Regions from separate parts of the Homo sapiens genome. Here all the other regions are linked to region 2. Evidence: fine-mapped QTL for protein levels in blood plasma. Region 2 holds a variant in brackets. A gene starts in each other region. All regions are shown on their forward strands.

Region 1 (4,237 bases), not on the chromosome of region 2:
TGTGGTGGGGGCCACATGCAGATGGAGTGGGTTAAAGAGTGACTAGAAGAGCAGTGGGGGTGGCAGCAGGAGAGAAGCCTGGCTCTGAAAGCAGCGAGACTTCTAGGGAATACAGGGTCAGGGGAGGTTCTGAAAGATGACACACTGCAGAGAACATGTGTTTGTATGCCGATGACAAGTATCCAGTAGAAAGGCAGATGAACAGATTCTCATTCTCAGAAAGGCCTGTCCTGACCTCCTGAGAGTACACAGACCATGAGGGCAGGGCAAGGAGGAGGATGCACGCTCACTGTTTCATGCAAAGTCCTTGGCCACAGTCCACCTGCTCCCCACCTCTGTGACTTTGTCCTTCCTCAATTTAATATGCTCTATGCTGGAAAACTGGATTATTGAACAGGCATTGGCTGATGCATTCTGAACCTAATCCACTAAAAAGCACTTGATAGATATATCAAAATATCATTGAGAAATAGATATTTTAGGCCCATATCCATGTCTTCACCCCGCACTGTTTCTCATTTGAACTCTCTTTTCCAGGAAGAGTTGTGCTTGGGTAAATTCTATAGCTCACAGTGTGACTTCAAAACACACAATAAATTAATAAGGTGCTTCCTACAGTGAGTTCAGTTAAACATTTTGAAGAGTGTTTTTGAAATGTAGCAGAGCAGGCTACAATTGATATTCAAAAAGAGGAAACTTCCATTTATTTCCCCCTTTAACTAAGTTACCTGTAACTGTGTCATTTTATTATGCTTCATAGAGCATCACTGCTGAGATCCCCTCCCCAGCTCATGTTGCTAGGAAATATCCCAAAACAGAATCAATTTTTCTTTTTTTAACCTGATGATTTTTCCACAATCCTTTTGTTTCTCTGATTCACCTCCAGGGCTCATATGGCAATGGGGATTTAATAGGGTTTATTTGTTGGTGAAGAAACATTAAACAAATCTTTTAATAGGAAAAATACTTTTATATTATAGGCAAAATGTAGATGTATATTGCTACTGAAGTAAATGTATTTTATTAATGGTGTGAGAATTTCTTCCTCACTGTGGTGTGTGAATGTGTATGCATATTTGCATGTGTAAAAGACTTAGCAATTTGTGAATAGAAGATGTTTCTCCGCTTCTCACTGAGCATGGCTGTAAAAGAAACTTTTTCCTCTCCCCGGGCATTCCAGCACACATTGGAAAGATAACACGTCCACAGAAAGCCTGGCTTTCCAAAAGAGCTTATCAGAGAATGTGCCCCCCAGGTCGATTAAAACATATGTTAATCCTGTGGCAGAGAAGTTTGTTCTAGCCTTTGGGTGTAGCCTGCTGAATAAGTTCACAGTGATCTACATCCTAGTTTCCATGGGCTGAAATAGAATATTCATATCCCCTGCACTCCCTACACACACAGACATAGACACCAATTTCCCCAAAAAACTCTTTGCTTAATCTTCTCCTGCTCTGTATTTTCTTTGATATTTTCTTGAATGGCTTCCACTAAATTCAAATGTGTTTGACTTTAAAGTCAACTTGTAAAATTTTATCTGGTAATTTATAGATTAAATTGCAAGCATCTACCTCCCTTTCATCAGACTCTCCCTGCAGGGCAAGTTCATCTAACTATGTATGTGCTTCAAGATGGAACTCCTGAGTTCACAGGTGATTTATAAACCAAAGCATGCCCACTACAAAACTCTCACCCTCCAGAGATTTGCCTCAAGGGACAACACCCTGCTCACAAAGGCACCAGCAGGCAACTGCTCAACTACCTGGTGGATAAGGTGCCCAAGCTAGCATGGACCCCTGAATCCTTGCTCGCCTCCTCTGTTGCCTTTTAAAAGTGCCACTTTCTGCTCCTAAAGTGAAGTAGTACGGCAGGACTGCTGCATTTCTTCCCCTAAGCTAGCTTTGGAAGCAAATCACTTTCTTTATACCAGACTTCTCTCTTCTTAATTGGATTCTGCAAGTGGCAAACAATTAACCTGCTCTTCAGTTACATTGGAATGTGTTTAGATTTATTTTTTCAAATGTTGGAACAAAGATGAAAAAGTGAGAAGAGCCCTAGATTTTTTCTTGGAAATCTGGCTTAAATCCAGGTTTCTTTATTTCCTTGATTTGGGAATTTGGTCACGAGACAAATAACATGATTTTCCTAAGTCTAGATTTCTTTGTTTATAAAATGGGGATGACTATGCTACCCTACCTATACCATGAGCTAAATAAGCTAGTATTTGTAAAGGACACACACTTACATTCACAATCACACACGGTGTGTATGTGTGTATGTATGTATAAAAATGTGGGGACCTAACCCACTCAACAAATACCCTGAGTATTTGTTGAATCATTATATGCGTATATCATCTGGCAAATGGATGTGTATAATTTCTCCAGGGATAAGAAGCAAATGTATACCGATGGAAAGCCTTACTCAGGCCATAACAAAGAGAGAAATGCTGAGTCCCACTCCATGAACAGGTCAAGGAACCAAACATATTCAAAGAGTTATTTCATTGTTTCAACTTGCTAGTGAGGGGAGCATGGCACCTGAACAGAGATGATATAAATTAATGAAACTGAGAACCAAGCGAAGAGCTTAGCCATCCTTTGCATAGTTAGCTACAATGGCTATTTATTTTTCAGCCAGACTGGCCATCATGTAGGCACACTCTTTTAGATTAGAAAAATCAACCATTATTTTTTCTGCCCATTCATTCCAGCACCGTGACAGTCTTCACGGGGAAATTAAACTTATTTTTTTAAGAATTTTTCAATCATATACAAGATTTTGAACTGGGAATTTCATGAATCAAAAATTAAATGAATTGCACATAAAGCCATGGCATATGTATTTTTACTACATTGTGGGAGAAAAAATAATTCTTATAATTTAAAAAAACTATGTCTTACCTGATTTCAGAAATAAAAGAAGTAGAAGAACCACTTCCTTATGTTCCATTTTGGGACTGGCCAGCAGTGCCCAGAAAGTGTGTCCCAATCCCAGGACATTGTTGACTTACATGAGAGTAAACGCACCCACAAACCAGATAGTCAAATTAAGTTAATGATTCTCTCAGAGACCCATGCCACTGGCTCAGCAGGGTTCAAACATTACCTTGAATATAGAGTCTTATAAAATATTTGAGAGTGCAATGTCAATAGATGCTGGGAAGTGGTGAAAGCCATTTCCCCCCTCAGCTGCTCCACATTGCCTTTATGTCTCCTTACTCCTTCCCTCACCCCTAGACCTTCATCTTTCCTGATTAGTCTTGTTTCCTCCCCTCTTCTTTCATTCTCTTTCTTTTGGATAAAATAAAATCATAAAAGTAGCTCATATTTGCTGGTAACTTCCATGACCAGACCCTCTGCCAAGTGCTGCACATCCATAGCCTCCCTCAAGCTTTCCAACAGGCAGTGCTGTACGAGGAGGGGGCTGAGGCCTTCCCGAGGTTGTGTCGCTACCCAGGGGTGCAGCTGATAGACACAACCCTTTCAGGTCTTAGTTTACGAGCAAGCTAGGTATAAATGTTAACATCTCCACATCCTATACCAAACTGTGCCGAAATGACAACATAAGTGAAAATCTTTTATTATCTTCAAAATTTATTTATTCCTAGTGAACTCACATGTTTTCTGTAATTATAAATTATGTTATAAGATATCAATCCTTCCAGGAGGGGGTGGTGGCTCATGCCTATAATCCCAGCATTTTGGGAGGCCACGGCAGATGGATCACCTGAGGCCAGGAGTTTGAGACAAGCCTGGGCAACATGCCAAAACCCTGTCTCTACAAAAAATACAAAAATTAGCTGGGTGTGGAGGCACATGCCAGTCATCCCAGCTACTAAGTAGGCTGAGGCACTAGAATTGCTTGAACACAGGAGATGGAGGTTGCAGTGAGCCAAGAATGTGCCACTGCACTCCAGCCTGGGTGACAGAGCAAGAATGTCTCAGGAAAGAAAAAAAAATAATAAATACCAAATAAAATTAATAAAATATCAATCCTTCCTATTCTAGTAGTTGTGGCTTAAATAAATAAATAAATATTTTTAAAAATAAAACATAGGGTCGAGTGCGGTGGCTCAACTCTGTAATCCCAGCACTTTGGGAGGCCAAGACAGGTGGATCACAAGGTCAGGAGTTTGAGACCAGCCAGGCCAATGTGGTGAAACCCCATCTCTACTAAAAATACAAAAATTAGCCAGGCGTGGTGGTGGGCACCTGTAATCCCAGCTACTAGGGAG
Region 2 (2,613 bases):
GCGCCTGGGGCCCCTGGTGGAACAGGGCCGCGTGCGGGCCGCCACTGTGGGCTCCCTGGCCGGCCAGCCGCTACAGGAGCGGGCCCAGGCCTGGGGCGAGCGGCTGCGCGCGCGGATGGAGGAGATGGGCAGCCGGACCCGCGACCGCCTGGACGAGGTGAAGGAGCAGGTGGCGGAGGTGCGCGCCAAGCTGGAGGAGCAGGCCCAGCAGATACGCCTGCAGGCCGAGGCCTTCCAGGCCCGCCTCAAGAGCTGGTTCGAGCCCCTGGTGGAAGACATGCAGCGCCAGTGGGCCGGGCTGGTGGAGAAGGTGCAGGCTGCCGTGGGCACCAGCGCCGCCCCTGTGCCCAGCGACAATCACTGAACGCCGAAGCCTGCAGCCATGCGACCCCACGCCACCCCGTGCCTCCTGCCTCCGCGCAGCCTGCAGCGGGAGACCCTGTCCCCGCCCCAGCCGTCCTCCTGGGGTGGACCCTAGTTTAATAAAGATTCACCAAGTTTCACGCATCTGCTGGCCTCCCCCTGTGATTTCCTCTAAGCCCCAGCCTCAGTTTCTCTTTCTGCCCACATACTGGCCACACAATTCTCAGCCCCCTCCTCTCCATCTGTGTCTGTGTGTATCTTTCTCTCTGCCCTTTTTTTTTTTTTTAGACGGAGTCTGGCTCTGTCACCCAGGCTAGAGTGCAGTGGCACGATCTTGGCTCACTGCAACCTCTGCCTCTTGGGTTCAAGCGATTCTGCTGCCTCAGTAGCTGGGATTACAGGCTCACACCACCACACCCGGCTAATTTTTGTATTTTTAGTAGAGACGAGCTTTCACCATGTTGGCCAGGCAGGTCTCAAACTCCTGACCAAGTGATCCACCCGCCGGCCTCCCAAAGTGCTGAGATTACAGGCCTGAGCCACCATGCCCGGCCTCTGCCCCTCTTTCTTTTTTAGGGGGCAGGGAAAGGTCTCACCCTGTCACCCGCCATCACAGCTCACTGCAGCCTCCACCTCCTGGACTCAAGTGATAAGTGATCCTCCCGCCTCAGCCTTTCCAGTAGCTGAGACTACAGGCGCATACCACTAGGATTAATTTGGGGGGGG[G/T]GGTGGTGTGTGTGGAGATGGGGTCTGGCTTTGTTGGCCAGGCTGATGTGGAATTCCTGGGCTCAAGCGATACTCCCACCTTGGCCTCCTGAGTAGCTGAGACTACTGGCTAGCACCACCACACCCAGCTTTTTATTATTATTTGTAGAGACAAGGTCTCAATATGTTGCCCAGGCTAGTCTCAAACCCCTGGGCTCAAGAGATCCTCCGCCATCGGCCTCCCAAAGTGCTGGGATTCCAGGCATGGGGCTCCGAGCCCGGCCTGCCCAACTTAATAATACTTGTTCCTCAGAGTTGCAACTCCAAATGACCTGAGATTGGTGCCTTTATTCTAAGCTATTTTCATTTTTTTTCTGCTGTCATTATTCTCCCCCTTCTCTCCTCCAGTCTTATCTGATATCTGCCTCCTTCCCACCCACCCTGCACCCCATCCCACCCCTCTGTCTCTCCCTGTTCTCCTCAGGAGACTCTGGCTTCCTGTTTTCCTCCACTTCTATCTTTTATCTCTCCCTCCTACGGTTTCTTTTCTTTCTCCCCGGCCTGCTTGTTTCTCCCCCAACCCCCTTCATCTGGATTTCTTCTTCTGCCATTCAGTTTGGTTTGAGCTCTCTGCTTCTCCGGTTCCCTCTGAGCTAGCTGTCCCTTCACCCACTGTGAACTGGGTTTCCCTGCCCAACCCTCATTCTCTTTCTTTCTTTCTTTTTTTTTTTTTTTTTTTTTTTTTTTTTTTGAGACAGAGTCTTGCTCTGTTGCCCAGCCTGGAGTGCAGTGGTGCAATCTTGGTTCACTGCAACCTCCACTTCCCAGATTCAAGCAATTCTCCTGCCTCAGCCTCCAGAGTAGCTGGGATTACAGGCGTGTCCCACCACACCCGACTAATTTTTGTATTTTTGGTAGAGACAAGGCTTCGGCATTGTTGGCCAGGCAGGTCTCGAACTCCTGACCTCAAGTAATCTGCCTGCCTCACCCTCCCAAAGTGCTGGGATTACAGGCATGAGCCACCTCACCCGGACCATCCCTCATTCTCCATCCTTTCCTCCAGTTGTGATGTCTACCCCTCATGTTTCCCAACAAGCCTACTGGGTGCTGAATCCAGGCTGGGAAGAGAAGGGAGCGGCTCTTCTGTCGGAGTCTGCACCAGGCCCATGCTGAGACGAGAGCTGGCGCTCAGAGAGGGGAAGCTTGGATGGAAGCCCAGGAGCCGCCGGCACTCTCTTCTCCTCCCACCCCCTCAGTTCTCAGAGACGGGGAGGAGGGTTCCCACCAACGGGGGACAGGCTGAGACTTGAGCTTGTATCTCCTGGGCCAGCTGCAACATCTGCTTGTCCCTCTGCCCATCTTGGCTCCTGCACACCCTGAACTTGGTGCTTTCCCTGGCACTGCTCTGATCACCCACGTGGAGGCAGCACCCCTCCCCTGGAGATGACTCACCAGGGCTGAGTGAGGAGGGGAAGGGTCAGTGTGCTCACAGGCAGGGGGCCTGGTCTGCTGGGCCTGCTGCTGATTCACCGTATGTCCAGGAGC
Region 3 (4,000 bases), not on the chromosome of region 2:
AGATGTGAAGTAATTTGACCAAAGGTCACAAAGCTGAAGAATATGAAATCCGGGATTCTGATTCAGGCAGTCTTATTCCAGAATCATGCTCTTAACCACTATGGAATACTGCCTCTACTGTAACTATTATACCCAAAACCCTTAATCCTAAGTCATCAAAAGGAAGAGCCTCTATTTTACACAATGAAGAGGCATTTCTAAGAATAGAAATTTAGGGACGAGCACAGTGGCTTACTCCTTTAATATCAGCACTTTGAGAGGCTGATATGGGAGGTTCACTTGAAGTCAGGAGTTCAAGGTCAGCTTGGGCAACATAGTGAAACACAGTCTCTACAAAATATTTAAAAATTAGCTGGGTGTGGTGGCATGCATCTATAGTCTCAGCTACTTGGGAGACAGAGGGAGGAGGCTTGCTCGAGCCCAGGAGTTCGTGGCTATAGTGAGCTATGATCATGCCACTGCACTCCAGCCTGGACAACAGAGCAAGACCCTGTCTCTAAAAAAGAAAAGAAATTTGGAAATGGTTTATTTTGTATTAACAATTTATAATTTACACTGAAATTTATTATGATAAAACTTTTCCCTGTGTTAAAAAGCTATTAACTTTATGAAAAATTTCTTTTAGGTAAGGTTGATTATATATACCCACACACATACACAGGTTAAAAGTTAGTTTCATGTGACATAATAACTAGCATTTTGAGCACTACCTGTTTGCCCAGCACTGTTCTAAGTGCTCTACATGTATTATTGTTAAATTATCATAACACTATGAATTATGTACTATAATTACCCCAGCTTTACAGATGAGGAGACTAATCCATGGGGAGGTTAAGTAACTTGTCCAAGGCCAGACAGCTAGAGCCGGCTTTTGGACCCACACCACAGTCTGACTCCAGCACCCATATTCTTAACAATTTCACCATATTAATATGTCAAGATTAAGCAGTTTTAAAGGATGCTATTTTCTCACAAATTTCTTAATATGAACACTCAATAAGAATAATCACTAATATAAGCATTTAGTATTTTTTTAACACTAAGTTGGAAGCATAGTGGAACATTTATTTTTAGAAATATTATTAATTGGCTGGGCTCACGCTTGTAATCGGCTGGGCTCATGCCTGTAAATTTTGGGAGGCCAAGGTAAAAGAATTGCTTGAGCCCAGTATTTCCAGACCAGCATGGGCAATACATTAAGACATCATCTTTAAAAAAAAAATGTTATTAATCTCCTCTTTTTGTTAAATGTATATTATCAAAATTGTTACTAAGCTAACAAACTTCAGAAAAACTTATGATGGGCAAGCTGCTTGTGACATTGAAGGTATTTAAGATTCAATTCTAGTTTGGTCCTAGATGACCACATATCCATTGTTCCTTCAACGAGCACATGGTAAAGAGCCTAGAACACAGAGACACAGAACACAGTGGAGAAAAGGGAGTGAAATGTCTTTAATGACACTTACTATATATGGGATTTTGTGACAATATACAAGGATGGTTAAGACATATAAGGTGATGCAAAAAAACATATTAACAATTATAGTGACAAAAAATGAGGAGCATATAATTATACATTGATTTATACAGAGTACCAGAGGAACACAGCATTGAGAGCCGTAACACCACCTGAGGGAGTGGAGAAAGGCTTCAGAGAGAAAGTGTTTTTTGGAATGGATCACTGTTTCCAAAAGAACTAAAGTACAGTTTGAGAAATGCATACTTAATTCATTACTTTTTTCCCCTCAACTTTAATAATAAATTTACCCAACAAAAAAGTTTATTTTTGACTTGTAAATCTCTTAAAATCATAAAAAAGTAAAATTAGCTTTTAAAAACAGGTAGTCACCATAGCATTGAATGTGTAGTTTATAATACAGCAAAGTTAAATACAATTTCAAATTACCTATTAAGTTAGTTGCTCATTTCTTTGATTTCATTTAGCATTGATCTAACTCAATGTGGAAGAAGGTTACATTCGTGCAAGTTAACACGGCTTAATGATTAACTATGTTCACCTACCAACCTTACCTTTTCTGGGCAAATATTGGTATATATAGAGTTAAGAAGTCTAGGTCTGCTTCCAGAAGAAAACAGTTCCACGTTGCTTGAAATTGAAAATCAAGATAAAAATGTTCACAATTAAGCTCCTTCTTTTTATTGTTCCTCTAGTTATTTCCTCCAGAATTGATCAAGACAATTCATCATTTGATTCTCTATCTCCAGAGCCAAAATCAAGATTTGCTATGTTAGACGATGTAAAAATTTTAGCCAATGGCCTCCTTCAGTTGGGACATGGTCTTAAAGACTTTGTCCATAAGACGAAGGGCCAAATTAATGACATATTTCAAAAACTCAACATATTTGATCAGTCTTTTTATGATCTATCGCTGCAAACCAGTGAAATCAAAGAAGAAGAAAAGGAACTGAGAAGAACTACATATAAACTACAAGTCAAAAATGAAGAGGTAAAGAATATGTCACTTGAACTCAACTCAAAACTTGAAAGCCTCCTAGAAGAAAAAATTCTACTTCAACAAAAAGTGAAATATTTAGAAGAGCAACTAACTAACTTAATTCAAAATCAACCTGAAACTCCAGAACACCCAGAAGTAACTTCACTTAAAGTAAGTAGAAAATAAAGAGGGTTCATGTTTATGTTTTCAATGTGGATCTTTTAAAAAAAATATTTCTAAGGCATGCCATTTGAAATACTTTGTTGCATTGTTGAAATACTTTTTTTTCCAAGAAAAATAATCTCCAGAAAATAAAATTTCCTATTATAATTTCAAGTTAGTTTTTTGTTTCCCTAATGTTATATATGAAAACACTGAAAATTTGCATTTTATATGAAAATTACAAATCGGTTAAATTATACAATCTAGAACACTATGTCATTACACTATTGTAAATTACTGAAGGTAAGTAAAAAGTTAAAAAAAATTTAAAACTATTCTCCAGTGTTTAAAACAGATTAAATAATACAGTAAATGGAAAAGATTTATTCATATGAAAATATGCTGGGCTTTTTCTTTTAATTGAAGTTCAGAAAATCAAATTTTAGAGATAGTACAATTTAAATAAAATGTTAAGGACAAAAATATGTGCTATTTGAAAGAAGCATACAAGGGGAAGGAATTGCCAATATTCATTTTTCAAATCCATTATTAGTTTAAAAATTTAGATTATGATAGTGTTACAGGAAATTAATAGAAAAGAAAGAGGAAAGCAACTTATAACCAACCTACTCTCTATATCCAGACTTTTGTAGAAAAACAAGATAATAGCATCAAAGACCTTCTCCAGACCGTGGAAGACCAATATAAACAATTAAACCAACAGCATAGTCAAATAAAAGAAATAGAAAATCAGGTAAGTCAGTATTTTAATGGTATGTCCCATCTTTCACACAGGTCTGTAAAAACACTGAATCCTAAAATTATTTACAAGCTTTAACTGGATCATGAGTAAAATTATCACATCAGCATAACTGTTAAAATTGCAGGCTCTGAAGCTAATAAACTACCTGCATTTAAACCATGGCTCTAAAACTTTGTGTGACCTTGAATAAATTACTTCACCCCTTTATCTCTCAGTTTCCTCACATATACTACAAAGATAATAACAGAACTTATAGGATTATTGTAAGAAAAAAAATTAATTCATAGCAGCCAATGTCATCTTACTAAAATTCAAATTAGATCATGTTTCTCTTTGCTCAAAACCACACAATAGCTTTCCATTTCACTCATATTGGCTCTTTAGACCAAGATTACCCAACCCTTCGTCATCTCACTGACTTCACCTCCTCTACTCTAGTTATTCTGACCGCTTTACCAGTATTCAAACACATCAAACATACTGCCACCTCAAAGCCTTTGCCCTTGTTGTTTCCTCTAACTGGAACGCTCTTCTGCCCTGGTATCTACGTGGCCCACTCTCTGATTTCCCTTAGGGTCGTTATCAAACAAAAAATTCCCAATGAAGACTTACAAGG
Region 4 (4,262 bases), not on the chromosome of region 2:
GCATGGTTAATCAAGTGACAGAATCCTTGCATTCTGAATAGATGATATACAAAGCAGTAAAAACATGTATATTCCTTTTCAAATTACAGTAAGAGCCACCATTTGTAAACAGGGCGTTAAATATTCCAATTTTAGACAGCCTAACATGAACATTGTGGTTTCATGTGCAGTATAAAATTTCTATTTACAAAGTATTCTCAAAAATGACTTCATAATGGTAGATGAAGAGAAAAAGAGTTTAGAAATTGAATGATGTAAATCATATGGGTTCAGAGGCTAAGCAAATTACACACCCTGAAGCTGCCCTGGCTTTATGAAAGGAGCCTTTCTCCAGCTCTGTGCAATCCCAGCCCAAGGGAACTTGCATCTGAGAGTTTTCTAAACATTTCAGGTACACTTGAAAGCTGAAAGTAATTCTCATTTCCTATGCAGGATTAAGTCGTTTCCAGCACACACAAAATAGCAGTCATTCACCAACACATACAAAAACACACCACCAGAAAGGTAAGGACTTCAGAGTACAAAGGCAAGTTTAAAAAACAAAAACTAGGGAGCAAGAGAAATACACTTTTTAATTCCTCTAAAAACGACCACACAGCCTCTTGACCTCTATATTTCCTATCTACTCATTGATTAATTGATGACTTCGACCTAGAGTGCTTCAATTAATGCGGCTGATATATTTCCTGACCGACCCCCCTCGCCCTCCCCAAATCTGAGTAAAGTCAAACATGCCAAGGCTCATTCATTTTGGATTCGTTTTTAGAGGCAGTTCTTGAACTTCTAACTTTAGCAATGAGCGAACCTGCAATGTGCATTTGAAATGACGTTCACAATCGCTCCCAGAATGTCCTCACTCAGCAGTGGCACTCACGTTGCCCTCTTGGAGCTTTGTGGCAGCTCCCGAAGTTGCAAACTACACTTAACCTTTAACAGTCCATGCCAATGAACGCAGCGCACATTTGCATGTAATGAGAGACCAAAGATACCTTCACAGTCTGGTATATATCACATACCAACGCACAATGCCAACGTTAACACACACAGCGAGAAACAAGCAGGGGGAGAATGGGGGAAAGACTCACCGTTCTGTTCCTTGTTGCTGGAAAACTGGAATTTACTACTCAGGTTGGATTCCGCCTGAGTCCCCTGTCTCTGGCCGGCCAGGGCAGATGTCAGCAGGAGAAGCCCGAAGAGGCTCATTTGGCTGACTGGGGTGAGAGCTCACTCACGGCGGGCACTTTGGAAGCAGCGACTCCCGAGTCTCTTTCACCACCGCCAGGGGAAGGCTGCACTGGGGTGGAAGCGCCGAGCCTGCTCTGGCAGCAGAGAATCGCAGGGTAGTTTCCACATAATCCCATCCAAAACTTTTTCCTAGAGCCCTCTTCTGTGTCTCCAGTTTTTGAAAAGGATCAAAGCAAAACCTGGACCTGAACCAGTTTCCCAAGGTTTAAACAAATCCTGAGCTGTGGCGAAGTGGTGGGGGTGGGGGTGAAGGCGAGGGAGGAATGAGGGGGTGGGGACGCGGGGGAGCGGCGAGAAGTCCCCAGCAAGTTGCTGGGAGCACCTGTCAGTTCGGGGGACAGGACAGAGGCGAAAACTCAAGGGTTGCCCGCAGCCAGACTGGAAGCCAAGTCGGCGGCGAGCAGTTTCTGATCAATAACAAAGCTGCCAATAGATGCGGCTCTCCGGGCGCCCCTCTCCCCCGCCCCACCCCCCACCCCCGAAGGGGGAGGGGGAAGAAACAAGGCGAGGGCGCCGCGGCGGGTCCCACGGGCCGGGGCGCCGGAGCGGGGCCGGGGGGCTCCGGGCCGACGGCGGCCCGGGCGCAGGCGGAGAGAGGCCGCGGGGCTCCCGCTCCTCAGCCCGGAGCGCAGTTGGCCCCGGGTTCGGAGCGCCGCAGCACGGATTCCGGCACCTGGCTTGAGTTTTCCGCGACCAAAGTTCACCTTGTTCGGGCTCGTCCCCCGCTCCTCAAAGCCTGGGGCAATTCGGCCGCTCGGGGTCACCGCGGGGCTCCGGTTGTTCCCCGTCCCCTCCCCCCACGCCTCGGGCTCCGCGCTAACCTCGGGGCTACGCGCGGCGTCTCCGCACGGGGTGAAGAGGGAAGGCCGGGGCGGCCGGGAGGATCCGGCTTGTCCCCTCCCCTTCTCTACCTTCCCCCCGCCGGGCGGCAGACAGGAGGTGGGGGCCGTGGGCCGAGCCCGGGCGGAGCGCGCGCCTGGCGAGCGGGGGCGGCTCAGCGGCTCTCCCGCAGGCGGCCGATGGGGCGGGCGGGGGTCAGCGCCTCTGGGAGGGGCAGCCCTGGGACGCGTCCGCGCGAGCGGGCTTGGCCGCCCACTGGCTGTCAACAGGTGCTGCGCAGACAGGGGGTGCTGCGGGACTCGCTGTGGGCAAGACCCCGGTGGCCCAGGAGAGGAACGCGGCCAAGGCGGCCCCTGCTTTCCCTTCCACGGAACACCTCTAACCCCAAATACAGAGCACGATGGGTGGTGAAGGGTGCTGCAGAAGTAAGTGGGAAAGAACTTCCTGCAGCTCTCCTTCTCCCGCCCCCTGTCGCCTGACTTGTCATTAGTTTCCAGGAGGGCTCCCCACTCCCTAAGGTCTTTGCTAGGACCCTTGGCCAGAGTTTCAGAACAGAAGGAAGAAGGGAAATGAATTCAAAGGCTTTCCTCCAATTTCCAGCTCCGTAAAGCAGGACAAATAAAGCAAAAGTAAAGGCAGCCAAAATAACATCCATTTAACAAGTACTATATTTACTGAATGCCTACTATGTCGGGCACTGTTTAGAGGTTGGAGCCGTAGCAGTGAAAACAGACAAAAGTCCCTGCCCTCGTGAAGCATACGTAGTAGTTGGGCAGCATTAAGCTAATAGCAAGCTCTTCTGAGAATGGTGTCTAAGGGACTCAGAATGATCCTGCAACCTTGGACTTTCCTACAATACAGCCTCTAACAAAACTAGGCTGCCCTGAACCCCTGGTGATAGAATTGTTTACATTTACACCAAAAAGGTCGAGAAAGAACTGAAATCTCTTGTGGCTTGTGTTCAGGCTGACTTGGAGAGAGAGGCCGATGCTTTAAGACCTAAAGTTCTCATGAGGTAGTCTGAAATGAAACACACATGCCAAGCAGGGCTTATGGTGGTTCCATGTCTGCTAAATATGTCTGTGACAGGATCCAACGTGCTTTCTTTGTGGAGAAGCAGAAAATCATTGTCAATGTGTTAAAGGCACAAGCAGAGAGTCAGAAAAGTTGAATTTTAAAATGAAGCTATTTTTGAGTAATAATCAAAATGAAAACAAGGAAGTGCCATGGCAGGCAAATCAGCAATATCACCCAACTTCTTGTGGAAAAAAAGTCAATGCAAACAATTCGACCATCAAGAACACTTGGGCTGGAACAGAAAACCAAAATAGCAATGTCCCTGAAACTAAGGAGTGGCATTTGGGCAAGAACATATTCTTACTGGACCAAACCAGGGGCTGATCCTTCTTCAGTGGTGAGGAAAATGCCAAGCCCTCTTCTTATATGCGAACACCAACTGGGGCCAACCAACCAGACCTTTCTGCTTGGAATATCCTAGTCTTCTTGTTTTTCCCTTTTAGAAACCTTTGAAAACTTCACCCATCTGTCTCATTCTTGAAAATTTCACCCGCCTGTCTCATTCATTCATTCTTATCCCTTTACCACTTCTATCTACAGAGTACTAAATATACACTAAAGGCAAATAAGGCCTGATCTTTGACTTTAAGGCATTTACAGTTTAGTGGACAGAAGGTTTTTTATCAAGTATGGTATTTTATTCGAGTTAGCAGCTCCACAACACCAGTGTGACTCCATATTTGCATAATGTGTTCCAAAAATATTTTGTAAATTTGTGAGGGTGAAGGGTTATTCCCAATTTTAATAACATAATGGGACTTAAATAAAGGGCATGCCTTATGAATCCATTGTAATCTATTTTTCATAAAATTCATTATTCTCCAGTTTTTCTAATTTTGTAAGTTTAGTTTTCTAATCAGCACTTTTCTAAATGAAATTGTTATATGTCCATATAGTTGAGTTTCCTGACCACCCACATAGAGGTGGGGTGTGTGTGTGTGTGTGTGTGTGTGTGTGTGTGTGTGTGTCTGCAAATGTAATCCATTTGCTCTCAGGAGATTGGAAGGGTGATGACTACTCTTTATTTTGTATCATTTCATATTGGCTAGAATATTGCTTGGCACAGGGGGATAATAAATAAACACTCTTGACTGACTGAC

Direction of the effects. Alleles are on the strand shown, and positions count from the first base shown. The strength of an association depends on the size of the effect and on how common the allele is.
In carriers of allele G in region 2, the plasma level of the protein whose gene starts at base 3,013 in region 1 tends to be higher than with T alone (moderate association).
For the plasma level of the protein whose gene starts at base 2,089 in region 3, allele T in region 2 goes with a higher level than allele G (weak association).
For the plasma level of the protein whose gene starts at base 2,099 in region 4, allele T in region 2 goes with a higher level than allele G (moderate association).

The links. A credible set is the group of variants that fine-mapping cannot tell apart. PIP is the posterior inclusion probability: the model's chance that the variant is causal. The UK Biobank Pharma Proteomics Project read protein levels with antibody pairs (Olink). The fine-mapping took linkage between variants from a reference panel, not from the people measured, so its PIPs are less certain.
Region 1: LPA starts here. The variant in region 2 is the best candidate, but not a certain one, in a credible set for the plasma level of the LPA protein (UK Biobank, PIP 0.63).
Region 3: ANGPTL3 starts here. The variant in region 2 is the best candidate, but not a certain one, in a credible set for the plasma level of the ANGPTL3 protein (UK Biobank, PIP 0.72).
Region 4: PDGFC starts here. The variant in region 2 is the best candidate, but not a certain one, in a credible set for the plasma level of the PDGFC protein (UK Biobank, PIP 0.59).

The regions. Positions count from the first base shown.
Region 1 is chr6:160,661,263-160,665,499 of GRCh38, forward strand. It overlaps LPA (lipoprotein(a)), which reads right to left and starts at 3,013. Exons shown (of 39, transcript NM_005577.4): 1 at 2,904-3,013. The coding sequence starts at 2,952.
Region 2 is chr19:44,908,887-44,911,499 of GRCh38, forward strand. APOE (apolipoprotein E) reads left to right here. Exons shown (of 4, transcript NM_000041.4): 4 at 1-507. The coding sequence ends at 364. Among named protein-coding and RNA genes, the nearest start is that of APOE, 4.4 kb to the left of the region's middle. The variant G/T (reference allele first, on the strand shown) is at 1,090.
Region 3 is chr1:62,595,432-62,599,431 of GRCh38, forward strand. It overlaps ANGPTL3 (angiopoietin like 3), which reads left to right and starts at 2,089. Exons shown (of 7, transcript NM_014495.4): 1 at 2,089-2,630; 2 at 3,265-3,375. The coding sequence starts at 2,136. All of the region lies in intron 14 of DOCK7 (dedicator of cytokinesis 7), which reads right to left.
Region 4 is chr4:156,969,701-156,973,962 of GRCh38, forward strand. It overlaps PDGFC (platelet derived growth factor C), which reads right to left and starts at 2,099. Exons shown (of 6, transcript NM_016205.3): 1 at 1,086-2,099. The coding sequence starts at 1,203. RefSeq lists an enhancer at 1,886-2,386.